Homo sapiens: one gene and its partners. The protein of the gene in region 1 purifies or fractionates together with the protein of each later gene. This does not show direct contact. Each region holds a gene or a part of one and is shown in the gene's direction. Other genes may lie near its edges.

What was found.
Region 2: the proteins of KPLCE (region 1) and ARG1 purify together in Homo sapiens (affinity purification with mass spectrometry, with the first as the bait; one large-scale study listed by BioGRID). This does not show direct contact.
Region 3: the proteins of KPLCE (region 1) and CASP14 purify together in Homo sapiens (affinity purification with mass spectrometry, with the first as the bait; one large-scale study listed by BioGRID). This does not show direct contact.
Region 4: the proteins of KPLCE (region 1) and DSG1 purify together in Homo sapiens (affinity purification with mass spectrometry, with the first as the bait; one large-scale study listed by BioGRID). This does not show direct contact.

The regions. Positions count from the first base shown.
Region 1 is NC_000001.11:152,718,177-152,720,999, forward strand, and holds KPLCE (protein KPLCE), read left to right. Parts: upstream 1-1,345; coding exon 1,346-2,098; 3' UTR 2,099-2,294; downstream 2,295-2,823.
Region 2 is NC_000006.12:131,572,030-131,576,025, forward strand, and holds the start of ARG1 (arginase-1), read left to right. Parts: upstream 1-1,196; 5' UTR 1,197-1,253; coding exon 1,254-1,310; intron 1,311-1,936; exon of another isoform or gene 1,937-2,263; coding exon of another isoform or gene 2,264-2,266; intron 2,267-3,996. UniProt on the Homo sapiens protein: Key element of the urea cycle converting L-arginine to urea and L-ornithine, which is further metabolized into metabolites proline and polyamides that drive collagen synthesis and bioenergetic pathways critical for cell proliferation, respectively; the urea cycle takes place primarily in the liver and, to a lesser extent, in the kidneys.
Region 3 is NC_000019.10:15,052,436-15,055,636, forward strand, and holds part of CASP14 (caspase-14 precursor), read left to right. Parts: intron 1-1,046; coding exon 1,047-1,196; intron 1,197-1,297; coding exon 1,298-1,523; intron 1,524-2,722; coding exon 2,723-2,839; intron 2,840-2,920; coding exon of another isoform or gene 2,921-2,994; coding exon 2,995-3,098; intron 3,099-3,201. UniProt on the Homo sapiens protein: Non-apoptotic caspase involved in epidermal differentiation. Is the predominant caspase in epidermal stratum corneum. Seems to play a role in keratinocyte differentiation and is required for cornification.
Region 4 is NC_000018.10:31,352,616-31,356,159, forward strand, and holds part of DSG1 (desmoglein-1 preproprotein), read left to right. Parts: intron 1-1,284; exon of another isoform or gene 1,285-1,321; intron 1,322-1,681; coding exon 1,682-2,731; 3' UTR 2,732-3,544. UniProt on the Homo sapiens protein: Component of intercellular desmosome junctions. Involved in the interaction of plaque proteins and intermediate filaments mediating cell-cell adhesion.

The DNA.
Region 1 (2,823 bases):
TAGCTTTAGATTAGATTCTCAATTTTAGTTTGATTCTCTGAGCTACACTTAGCTTTTGGCACAGTGTATGAAAAATTGAGAATCTAACTATAACTTGGATAAGTCCTGAAGACTCAAGTGACCTGGAAACAGCTTCATTAGAGACAGATCACATAGGCATCACTCATAACTTATAGGAAAAGGAGACTGACTTGTTTCCTGAGGAAGGGAACAGGAATCATTTATCTAGTGTTTGGGAAAACCCAATGTCAAGCACAGACATGCCCTGCCTCTGACTGAGGAGCCAGGCATACTGGGGAGGAATCTTGCCAATGCAACACCATCCCTTCTCCTTGTGATCTCTGGTGCTTCATTTAGATGCCATTAAATTGCCTCATTGCTGCCCTATAAAAGGTCTCCCCACCTGCTAGTTTTTCAGATCACTGACTTCTTCCAGTCTTGCTCCTATCAGCAAAGAGGGTAAGTCTCTATACGGGATAAGGACATGGTGAGAAACAGAGCTTTGGGGAAGCTGGGGTGGGATGAGAGCTGTGGGATGAAGGGTGAGCGAGGACTAGATGCTTAGGAAATCTGCTGAAGGAGGCTGAAAGCAATGCTGGTGGGAAACTTGGAGCCTGGGGCATGAGAGGAGAGGGAGGGGGACACGATGAGCTGGCATTCCTGTTTAAGAAGGGACTTTAGAGAACTGGCTCCCCATCCCCTTATCTGAATGCAATTGTGCAGTCCTCTCTTGGGTCTATGTGCTAATGAGGCCAACTGATTAGTCCAGCTGGTTCAAGGAGCACCTGGTAGAAACCTGCTCAAATTTAGCCTTGTTCTTTGCTCAGTACCGGGCACAGCTTGAGGCTCATGTTGGCTCAGGGTCCATGGACATAAATTTGTCTTTGCTGGGTATTCCTTGTCTGGGCAGAAGGAAGAAGGGAAGTCACCCTGGAGAGAACTGGTGGCAGGGGTCAATCATCTGGGAGCAGCAATTTCCAAAGGGTAATTCACAATGCAGACACTGAAGAAAGAGGAGAGGAGGCTTGGAGAGTTGGGTAGAAACACAGGCAGCACCATTTCAAGCCTCCATTTCCCAATATAGAGACTGAGGCCCAGAGGTAAGCGATGACTTGTACCAAGCCACATAGCCAGGTACAGGCACAGAAGCTGAGCTGAGAGTCCCTGGCTCTGAATCCACCTCCTGCCAAGTATACAGCCTCTGGATGTCTGCAACCTTCTCAAGAAAGCCTTGCTTGCAAATCACTGTATTCAAAGGGGATGTTGAAGGTTTCCCCTAGAAACCTTCCTGGTTTTACAGTTCTAATGAAACCTTTCTTTTCAGATTTTGCAAAGCCACAGAACAATGTGTGACCAGCAGAAGCAGCCACAGTTCCCTCCATCTTGTGTGAAAGGTTCGGGACTAGGGGCTGGGCAGGGTAGCAATGGTGCCTCTGTGAAATGCCCAGTTCCATGCCAGACCCAAACTGTCTGTGTGACAGGCCCTGCTCCATGCCCTACTCAAACTTATGTGAAGTACCAAGTTCCATGCCAGACTCAAACCTACGTGAAGTGCCCAGCTCCCTGCCAGAGGACCTATGTGAAATACCCAACACCCTGCCAAACCTATGTGAAGTGCCCAGCTCCCTGCCAGACAACCTATGTAAAATGCCCAACTCCCTGCCAAACCTACGTGAAGTGCCCAGCTCCCTGCCAGATGACCTACATCAAAAGTCCAGCTCCCTGCCAGACCCAGACGTGCTATGTCCAGGGTGCTTCTCCTTGCCAGAGCTATTATGTTCAAGCTCCTGCAAGTGGCTCAACCTCCCAGTACTGTGTCACTGACCCATGCTCTGCTCCCTGTTCCACCAGCTACTGCTGTCTGGCTCCCCGGACCTTCGGGGTGAGTCCCCTGAGACGCTGGATTCAGCGGCCCCAGAACTGCAACACAGGATCATCTGGCTGCTGTGAGAATTCGGGAAGCTCTGGATGCTGTGGTTCTGGGGGCTGTGGCTGCAGCTGTGGATGTGGCAGCTCTGGGTGCTGCTGTTTGGGAATTATCCCCATGAGGTCCCGAGGTCCTGCATGCTGTGACCATGAGGATGACTGCTGCTGCTAAACATACGACAGCTCAACTCCAGAATGCACTGCCCCGCTACCCCTTCTGGAACATGCACCAGCTTCTGGCCCCCTCTCTGTTAGTGCCAGTGATGTAGAACCTCATCACTTTGCCTCTGTGCTTTGCTTCTCTACCAAGGCAGCCTGCCAGAGTTAGTACAGTCCCCAAACTTTGGCATGAATAAAGCTCTGAATGCATTTCGTGGTAATTTCTGTCTGTTTGTTTGGTCCATATTTATGCTTTTCTATCAGGCACTCTTCTGCATCCCTCTCTTCTTACTCTTGTTTCTCAGCTAGAGGAAAGATCTGCACGAACATGAACAAGCAGACTGAGCTGGTGAAATCCCAGCCTGGGAGCCCCATGCCTTCTAGAATGCTGTGAATAAACTTTCCCACGCAAGTTAGAAGCATCTGAAAATGGAGATTTGAGGGTTGGGGCTGTTTCTGTGCTGCCCTTTGATGAGCCTCAGAGCAGGGTTGACCATGATGAGACCCTCATCTTCCTGGGTGTTGGAGAGATTGTGAAATTGTATCTGCTCATGGACCAGTATCACTGGTCATGGTCAGTATCACTGGACCATGTCTCCACCACTGTGCAGAGGGCTTGAACCCATGCAGGACTTTATGAATTACATTTTCTCATCTGACAGGCTTGCCCTGTTGAAACTATAGGTTGAAGGCCTGAGGGAAAAGGCTAGGAGCCCCCTGAAGTGGGTAGGTATTCAC
Region 2 (3,996 bases), on another chromosome or scaffold:
TTGGTTTCCTCATTTATCCATTCAATAAATATTTATTGAGTGCCTATTATACACCAACACTCTTCTAGGCCCTGGGGATACAGCAGACAAAATTCTCTGACCTCATGGAATTTAAATTCCAAAATGTTCTTTCCCACCAATAGGAAAAAGAAATTAGTTTCTACTAAGTGAATTTTCCCTTTAAATTACAATTACATAATTTTAAAGTCGGAAGGATCTTTAAGGTGCCTTTATTTTAAATTCATACTTTTGTATGGTGACAAATGGTAGCTCAGGGGCATAGAGGTTGACACCTTCCCAGCATTTAGACTATAAGCTCGACGGTTAAGTGGATTCAGAATGGCAGAGACTAAATCCCGACTTTTCTTCTACAGCCTATGTTGGCAACGGGTCTGAGCTTCAGTTTATTCATCAGTATAATGGCACCAATGATGAGACTTCACATAAAATTGGTATAAATATAAATATGGTATTTTGAAACAGAACTGCATCGGACACATGGTAAAAACTCAATGTTAGCTATTTTTATTTCTATACTTTGATTATGATATGATTCTACAATTATTTTCCTGTACACCATACTTCAAAAATGGTAACCTCTCTGGGTTACCAATCAAGTAACTAATTTTTTAAAGTAATCATCAAAAAAGGAAGTTATATACTCTTTATTATATTATACCCTAAAAGTTTATGAAATGTGTCTCATGGATTAACCATTTACCCTCATGTGTGAAATCTCAACTCAGGATTTTAGGGCTGGAAGGGATGTGACAGACGATCTTGCCAAGCCCGGCCCTTCTTCTACAAGGACGTCTTCAGAGATCTGGAGGAGGAAAGGGCCTTGCCCTGAGTTCGCTGAGCCAGAACAATAGGACTTCTTCTGTAGTTGTGAAACTTGTCAGTTGTTGAAGTCAGGTTAATGTCATCTGGCTGGCTTTTTAAAAGGGTGTGAAGTGAGAACATGAATAATTGTCACTTGATTAGAGACCTAGACTCAGAGTTAGGTTACTCCATGTATGAAGTAACCCCATATAGTTACTTCATACATGGAGTAACCATATAGTTACTCCATGTATGAAAAATTGCAAGACTGTTGACTGTCATTCTTTGGTTTAGTGGGTGGAGCCAGCTGTCCTCATTAGATAAAGGTTGTTTATTCAACCCAAGTATAAATGGAAAAAAAAGATGCGCCCTCTGTCACTGAGGGTTGACTGACTGGAGAGCTCAAGTGCAGCAAAGAGAAGTGTCAGAGCATGAGCGCCAAGTCCAGAACCATAGGGATTATTGGAGCTCCTTTCTCAAAGGGACAGGTAAGGAAAAAAGTCTTTCTTTGAATTCCTGGAATTTAGTTGAAAATTTTGGACTTCAAAATTTGTAAGGTGTTATTGTCTAGTTAGTTCAGTTTTCTGATACAATCTGGCCAGGAAATGCATATTTTAAAGTCCTCTCACCATTTTCCAACATTGTATAATTATAGTCACATATCCACTTACTTTTGTGGCTCGTGATCTCAGCCAAGGCTAAATTCATTTGAACCTACAGAATGTTTTCTCATATTTTTTAGGAGAAAATATTTTTCTTTGAATTGAAATGGACTCTTTCTGCATTGTAGCTACTCATTGAGGTTTAGTTGCTCTTGTTGTTTTTGATGTTACTGTGTGTATGTAGAGGAAGAGAGAATTTTAAGAAATACATTTGTTTAGTTATGTAATTAATGCCTAGAAAAATTTAATAGTTTGGTGGTAACCTTCAGGCTTCTTATAATTTGGATAACCTAAATATTATTGTTTCATGCAACTTTGTGAATAATTCATGTTATGTTAGGGTTTTAATGTTTCTATGAAACTGTTCATTCATGGACTAGGTAGAATCCTTTATGTGCCTCACTTGGAAGGGGAAAAAAAGAACAAAAAAAGAAAGAAAATCCTACTGCGGGTTGGCAACTCTAAAAGGATTTTAATGGATTTATGAAACCCCCAGATTTCCTTACAGCCACGAGCTGTGAATCCACACATGCCAGCAACATTGAATACACTTTTTTTTCTGCCTGGGCACACTTATTCTAGTAAAGAGAGTGTGATGACAGAACACCTTAGACTTCAACACGCATCTGTGCTTAAAGAGGATAAAAAACAAAGAACAAAATCAAACAAGACAATGTATGAGTTGAAACTACTAAGGTTGATTTTCTCCAGGTTTCTCAGGATCTGGGCAGCGTTTTGCTTCCTCTTAATTTGGAACCCTTGCTGTGTACTCTGACTTTTTACTGCAAAACAAATTGAGAGAGGCCAGAGGTTAGAGGCCCAAACTGCATTTGGACTGTCAGTAAATACTACTTTGCTTCCCCTGGAAATCCTCCAAAAGTCTCTCCCAAACACAGGGACATTTTGCTGACACAGAAATGTTCCTTTTAAAATCCACACTGTTCTCACCCACTCTTGAACAGGTTATAATAAATATATAATTTAAAAACCTCACAAAAGGGAAGCAAGTGTCCTCCTTCTACCACCCTCCTCCCATTAAAACATGGTCATGAGAATGGAGTTCATTGTCTCATGATTGTAAGGACTAAGAGAGAGAGATTTTTTACACTAAGTCATAGAGTAGAGAGGATAAAATGGCCAACATATAAGTATTTGTCCTCACCTAAAGGAGGTACAAGTTTGACAAATAAGCAAAAGGAAAGGATTAGAGGGCAGATGACTAAAATGTTGAGTCTGAGAAAGGGCTTCATCCCTGTCTCACCTCCTTGAAAGGCTTGCAAGGCAGCGAACAAACAATAAGGTAGGTATTATTTTTACCTTACAGTTGGGTTAAAAAAAAGCCCAGAGAGGTTTGGTAATGTGCTCAACGTCACACAGCCTTGACTGCATAATTCCAGACAAGATAATCTGATTCCAATGCCTATGCCCTTGATTTGCACTGATGTCTCTTCAGACTATTCAACTCCAAAGGCGACCTTATACTTGTGGCCATTTAGGGATTGGGCCCAGCTTAGAAAGTCGGTGGAGCTGACAAAGCAATTTCCAAAGTGGGCAGATAGAGCAAGCAAGAGGAAAGCCCAATCATGAGAAGCCATTTGAATAAAACAAATAAAAAAGAATTCTAGAAAATTTAATGGCTGTGTTATAGCAAATATAGTGTCAACTAAGGGGTCTATGAGCTTTGTTCTAAAATATGAAAGGGAGAAGGGTAAAAAAGCCAAGGAGTTTTATCAAACTGAGTATTGAGTATCTACTATATGTCAGCTCTACACTACAAAATATAGTGCCCCACATGTAAAGCAAGCTGGACTGAAATCTAACAATGAGGAAAAGACAAAAACAGACACAAAACTAAAGGCAAAACATGAACCAAGCAGCACCCTATTGGGGTTGAAAGAAGGAGAAATCATGTTTACTTGATTGGGGAGAGGCAGGTGTGTCAAGCAAAAAGGGAGTAAAGAAGCAAAATGTGTCAGGCAGAGGATAGGGCGGGTCCCTTGCTGCCAGGGACAGGAATTTAACATCAAGGATTTGCCTGGCACCCAGGGCAAGTCTTCTGTTCCTTTGAATGGGGAAAAAATACTTGCTTACTTTGATGCCACAGCCCCAATCCTAAAGATAGACACACGTGTCTTTTAACACATTGTCTCATCTGACAACATGTAATAATCTTCTGCATCTAAAAGCTCTGTTGGAAATTAAAATCAGAAAGATACAGAAAGGAACTGTGCCTTTAGACCTCTAATTGTTCAGGGGACTGAGGAAGACTTGCCCCTTGGAGGAAGAGTGTTAGTTTCCCTAATGTCAAAACGGCAAGGGTAGAACTTCCCATCATACTGTTAAGCAGGCCAAAACTTGAAATTACTGGGTTGGTCTTTGTTTGTAGTTTTCAGCTCCCAGATGATGACTTTTTCTGTTGCCTGCTTTCTCCCCAAGAGCTCTAGCTTACTTATGTGAGTACATGCACGTAGGTCTCTTTCATGTCACACTCTTTCGATGCTTTTGCCCAATC
Region 3 (3,201 bases), on another chromosome or scaffold:
GAGATGGAACCGAAGTTGGGTTGGGTGGTGGGGGCAGTCAAACACAGCTACCTCTGTCTCCAAAGATCAAGTTCTTCTCAACACATTAAAGGTTCTGAGAAGTCCTGCAATAAACAATTTCATGTTGATTTTTTAAAAGATGAAGTTCTTACCACTGGGGTGCTCAGTACGCTGCTTCTGTTCTGGAAAGAACTGTTGACCCCCAATATTCTTCTTCCTCAGACGGGATCTCAGTATTAGCTTCAGAAACTCTGAGACCTCTGCAAGTGAGGAGGTAATAGAGGAATGCTCAGAACACTCTTGGGGAGGATGAGGAGACCTGCAAATCCACAAAATACGACAACTGGAAGGGATCTTCAAAATCACACACACACTCATTGTCTATATTTGGAAACTGAGGCTCAGATGGGAGCAGTGACTTCCCCCAAGTTCATACCAAGCTAGAAAAGAGCTGGACCCCAGGTTGGGTTGCTGTATTTGGGAACTAAAAATAAAGGACACCCAATTCAATTTGAATTTCACATCAACAACAAATAATTATGTAGTATAAGTATATCCCATGCAATATTTGGGATATACTTATACTAAAAAGGTATTTGGTTTTTATTTGAAATTTAAGTGTACCTGAGCATCTTCTATTATACCTGGCAACCCTAAGCCCAAGCCTCTCTTGTTTTGTTTGTTCATTTTTGAGACAGGGTCTCACTTATTGCCCAGGCTGGAGTGCAGTGACAAGATCATAGTTCACTGCAGCCTCAACTTCCCAGGCTCAAGCTATCCTCCCACTTCAGCCTCCAAAGTAGCTGGGACCACAGATGCACAGCAGCACACCCAGCTATATTTTTCATTTTTTGTAGAGACAGAGTCTCACTATGTTGCCCAGGCTGGTCTCGAACTCTTGGGCTCAAGCAATCCTCCCACCTCGGCCTCCCAAAGTGCTGGGATCACAGGCATGAGCCACCACACCCAGCCTGCATGCCTCTTTTGACTACATCTGCTTCTCCTTGAACCTCTCCATGCTGATTTCTGTCTTCTCTTGGCCCCAGGAGAAATATGATATGTCAGGTGCCCGCCTGGCCCTAATACTGTGTGTCACCAAAGCCCGGGAAGGTTCCGAAGAAGACCTGGATGCTCTGGAACACATGTTTCGGCAGCTGAGATTCGAAAGCACCATGAAAAGAGACCCCACTGCCGAGGTATTGGGGTGCCTACTCCAGGCCTGTTTGGGGGAAAGGTACTAGGTTGGAAGTGTAGGCTATGGGGACCCAGCTGAGTCTGGTTCTTCCTCTCACTCCAGCAATTCCAGGAAGAGCTGGAAAAATTCCAGCAGGCCATCGATTCCCGGGAAGATCCCGTCAGTTGTGCCTTCGTGGTACTCATGGCTCACGGGAGGGAAGGCTTCCTCAAGGGAGAAGATGGGGAGATGGTCAAGCTGGAGAATCTCTTCGAGGCCCTGAACAACAAGAACTGCCAGGCCCTGCGAGCTAAGCCCAAGGTGTACATCATACAGGCCTGTCGAGGAGGTGGGGACAGATCCAAGAGCACAGAGTCTGTGGTTTGTTGTTTCTGTTTTGTTTTTTGAGACAGCACCCAGGCTGGAATGCAGTGGCGGAATCTCAACTCACTGCAATCTCCATCTCCCAGGCTCCAGCCGTCCTCCTGCCTCAGCCTCCTGAGTAGCTGAGACTACAGGCTCCCGCCACTATGTCAGGCTAATTTTTGTAGACAGGGTCTGATTATGTTGCCCAGGCTGGTCTCAAACTCCTGAGCTCAAGCAATCCTCCTGCCTCAGCCTCCCACCATGCCCAACCAAGTCTGTGTTTTTATCCAAGCCAGTCCCAGATCCAAAGCCCCAGCTGAAGCCAGGCACCATGGCTCATGCCTGTAATTCCAGTACTTTGGGAGGCCCAGGCGGGAAGATTTTTTGAGGCCAGGAGTTCAAGACTAGCGTCGAGCAATGTAACAAGAACCCAGCTCTATGAAAAATATTAAAGATTAGCCAAGGGCATGGTGGCATGGGCCTGTGGTCCTAGCTACTCAGGAGGCTGAAGTAGGAGGATCACTTGAGCCCAGGAGTTAAGAGGCTGCAGTGAGCTATGATTACACCATTGCACTCCAGCCTGGGCAACAAAGCAAGCCCCTGTCTCTAAAAAGTTAAATTAAATTAAAAAGCCCCACTGCACATGGCATACCACAAAAGCATCCTTTTTTTTTTTTTTTTTTTAGACGGAGTCTTGCTCTGTCACCCAGGCTGGAGTGCGATGGCACAATCTTGGCTCACTGCAACCCCCACCTCCCAGGTTCAAGCAATTCTTCTGCCTCAGCCTCCCAAGTAGCTGGGATTACAGGTGCAAGCCACCATGCCTGGCTAATTTTTGTATTTTTAGTAGAGATGGGATTTGACCATGTTGGTCAGGCTGGTCTCAAACTCCTGACCTCAGGTGATCTGCCTTCCTCAGCCTCCCAAAGTGCTGGGATTACAGGTGTGAGCCACCGTGCCCAGCCCTTACCTTTCTTTTTAAGAGGCGACATCTCGCTCTGTCTCCCAGGCTAGAGTGTAGTGGTGCAATCATGGCTCACTGCAGCCTCAAGCTCCCAGGTTCAAGTGATCCTCCTGCTTCAGCCCCCCAAAACACTGGGAATACAGGTGTGAGCCACCCTGCCCAGCCCCTTTCCTTACCTTTCTCTCTGACTTTGCCTCCTCCTCTTCTTGTTGTTTCAGAACAAAGGGACCCCGGTGAAACAGTAGGTGGAGATGAGATTGTGATGGTCATCAAAGACAGCCCACAAACCATCCCAACATACACAGATGCCTTGCACGTTTATTCCACGGTAGAGGGTATGAGCTCCCAGCTGGCCCAGGGATCCCTCTGCTCTTCCCCCTCTCCTGCCACTCCCAACTCCTGAACCTCTCCTCCAGGACCCACGCCCTTCCAGGATCCCCTCTACCTACCCTCTGAAGCTCCCCCGAACCCACCTCTCTGGAATTCCCAGGATACATCGCCTACCGACATGATCAGAAAGGCTCATGCTTTATCCAGACCCTGGTGGATGTGTTCACGAAGAGGAAAGGACATATCTTGGAACTTCTGACAGAGGTGAGTTGACAAAAGGTAGCTGGGACCACCGCCCAGGCCAAGAAGGGTGCAGGCGGAGGGGGCTGAGCCTCCTCCTAACCCCTCTCCATTTCCCTCAGCTCCA
Region 4 (3,544 bases), on another chromosome or scaffold:
GTAGATTTGGTCTTTTCACATAGTCCCATATTTCTTGGAGGCTTTGCTCATTTCTTTTTATTCTTTTTTCTCTAAACTTCCCTTCTCGCTTCATTTCATTCATTTCATCTTCCATTGCTGATACCCTTTCTTCCGGTTGATCACATCAGCTCCTGAGGCTTCTGCATTCTTCACGTAGTTCTCGAGCCTTGGTTTTCAGCTCCATCAGCTCCTTTAAGCACTTCTCTGTATTGGTTATTCTTGTTATACATTCTTCTAAATTTTTTTCAAAGTTTTCAACTTCTTTGCCTTTGGTTTGAATGTCCTCCCATAGCTCAGAGTAATTTGATCGTCTGAAGCCTTCTTCTCTCAGCTTGTCAAAGTCATTCTCCATCCAGCTTTGTTCCGTTGCTGGTGAGGAACTGCGTTCCTTTGGAGGAGGAGAGGTGCTCTGCTTTTTAGAGTTTCCAGTTTTTCTGTTCTGTTTTTTCCCCATCTTTGTGGTTTTATCTACTTTTGGTCTTTGATGATGGTGATGTACAGATGGGTTTTTGGTGTGGATGTCCTTTCTGTTTGTTAGTTTTCCTTCTAACAGAGAGGACCCTCAGCTGCAGGTCTGTTGGAGTACCCTGCCGTGTGAGGTGTCAGTGTGCCCCTGCTGGGGGGTGCCTCCCAGTTAGGCTGCTCGGGGGTCAGGGGTCAGGGACCCACTTGAGGAGGCAGTCTGCCCGTTCTCAGTTCTCCAGCTGCGTGCTGGGAGAACCACTGCTCTCTTCAAAGCTGTCAGACAGGGACATTTAAGTCTGCAGAGGTTACTGCTGTCTTTTTGTTTGTCTGTGCCCTGCCCCCAGAGGTGGAGCCTACAGAGGCAGGCAGGCCTCCTTGAGCTGTGGTGGGCTCCACCCAGTTCGAGCTTCCTGTCTGCTTTGTTTACCTAATCAAGCCTGGGCAATGGCGGGCGCCCCTCCCCCAGCCTCACTGCCGCTTTGCAGTTTGATCTCAGACTGCTGTGCTAGCAATCAGCGAGACTCCGTGGGCGTAGGACCCTCCGAGCCAGGTGCAGGATATAATCTCGTGGTGCGCCGTTTTTTAAGCCCGTCGGAAAAGCGCAGTATTCGGGTGGGAGTGACCCGATTTTCCAGGTGCCGTCCGTCACCCCTTTCTTTGACTCAGAAAGGGAACTCCCTGACCCCTTGCGCTTCCCAAGTGAGGCAATGCCTCGCCCTGCTTCGGCTCGCGCACAGTGGACGCACCCACTGACCTGCACCCACTGTCTGGCACTCCCTAGTGAGATGAACCCGGTACCTCAGATGGAAATGCAGAAATCACCCGTCTTCTGCGTCGCTCACGCTGGGAGCTGTAGACCAGAGCTGTTCCTATTCGGCCATCTTGGCTCCTCCTCGAAACCAATTCATGTGATTTTTTTGTGTATGGTTTTATGTCCAAAGTACACAATTATAAATAAGTCCATCTAAGTAAATTTTTAAAATCATAGTATTAGAATTATACTTAAAATGATTTCTAACCAAATTATTTCAAATAATTATAAAATGATTTTTAGAGCATCTCTAGTATGTTAAAATCTTGTTTTATTTCATTCCTCTTTGGAAATGCTCTGGAAGAAAAACTAATGATAAAGGCTGTTCTATTATTGTTAAATATGCATTCATAATTTCATTTTCTCTTTCTCCTATAAATTCAGAAAGCATATGCTTACGCAGATGAAGATGAAGGACGCCCATCTAATGACTGTTTGCTCATATATGACATCGAAGGTGTAGGTTCCCCTGCTGGCTCTGTGGGTTGTTGTAGCTTCATTGGAGAAGACCTGGATGACAGCTTCTTGGATACCCTGGGACCTAAATTTAAGAAGTTGGCAGACATCAGCCTAGGAAAAGAATCATATCCAGACCTTGATCCTTCTTGGCCACCACAAAGCACTGAACCAGTTTGCCTTCCTCAGGAAACAGAGCCCGTTGTTAGTGGACACCCACCAATCTCCCCACATTTCGGCACTACCACAGTAATTTCTGAGAGCACCTATCCCTCGGGACCTGGTGTACTGCATCCTAAGCCTATTCTCGATCCTCTGGGCTATGGTAATGTCACTGTGACCGAGTCTTACACCACCTCTGACACTCTGAAGCCCTCTGTGCACGTTCACGATAACCGACCAGCATCAAACGTGGTAGTGACAGAGAGAGTGGTCGGCCCAATCTCTGGCGCTGATTTGCATGGAATGTTAGAGATGCCTGACTTGCGAGATGGGTCGAATGTTATAGTGACAGAAAGGGTAATAGCACCAAGCTCTAGTCTACCCACCTCTCTGACTATCCATCATCCTAGAGAGTCTTCAAATGTGGTAGTGACAGAAAGAGTAATCCAACCAACTTCCGGCATGATAGGTAGTCTGAGTATGCACCCCGAGTTAGCCAATGCCCACAATGTCATTGTGACAGAGAGGGTTGTTTCTGGTGCTGGCGTAACTGGAATTAGTGGCACCACTGGGATCAGCGGTGGCATAGGCAGCAGTGGCCTGGTTGGCACCAGCATGGGTGCTGGGAGCGGTGCCCTGAGTGGAGCTGGCATAAGTGGTGGTGGCATTGGCCTGAGCAGCTTGGGAGGGACAGCCAGCATTGGCCACATGAGGAGTTCCTCTGACCATCACTTTAACCAAACCATTGGGTCCGCCTCCCCTAGCACAGCTCGAAGTCGAATCACAAAGTATAGTACCGTGCAATATAGCAAGTAGTCAGGACCCCAGCTCACTTTTTCATAGTCATTGTGGTTTAGATCCAATTCCCACCACTAAAAAACCAACAATGTGATTTATAACGCACAACTTCGTGCTCAGGTCATCTAGGAGCAAGGTGAGAAATCACAATGAGAAAAATAAATGGAAACACCACTGCTAGGGGAGAGCTCTCCTTAGCATTCATAAACTTTTCTCTTATATTAGGACTAAGGAACTAAAACTTGAGGCAGAGTCTTCTTTGTGCCTGAGTGGCCTGTAGTCCATCTCCAGCATGTAACTGGCCTTACGATGGCAATTGGCATCATTCTCCTTGCTCTGTTTTGCTTTTCCATATAGCTCGAGCAAAATTCAAAAAGAACTAAATATGCAATATATGTTCATATCTATGGGAAAAATCTAAAATGTGTGCCAGATGCCCTGTTGGTTTCACAGATAACATAAATAAAAATTCAACCACAGATTTATACAAGGGTTAACCATTTTTTTTAAGTTTGACTACATAGTCAAGTCCACAAGCCATCAAGCACTCCTACCTTAATTATTGCACTAGAGAAAATAAATTCCAAATTAGGAAGTGTTTCCTAGGAGGAAAATTCCATTAGAGAGTGGCAATAGGATGAGGTTTCTTCAGGGTAAACTAGCAATGCCTGAGCCTGAACCTTAATGTGGGGCCTCAGTTAAATCTCCTGTGGAGTCAAGGATTCTTCTGATTCTAGTGTGTGTTTAGTGATAGATGTAGTCTTGACGAATATTGCTTACTGGTGAGGTTGAGGAATATCACACTCGTCTTTCCCTTTACCACTGTGGTTT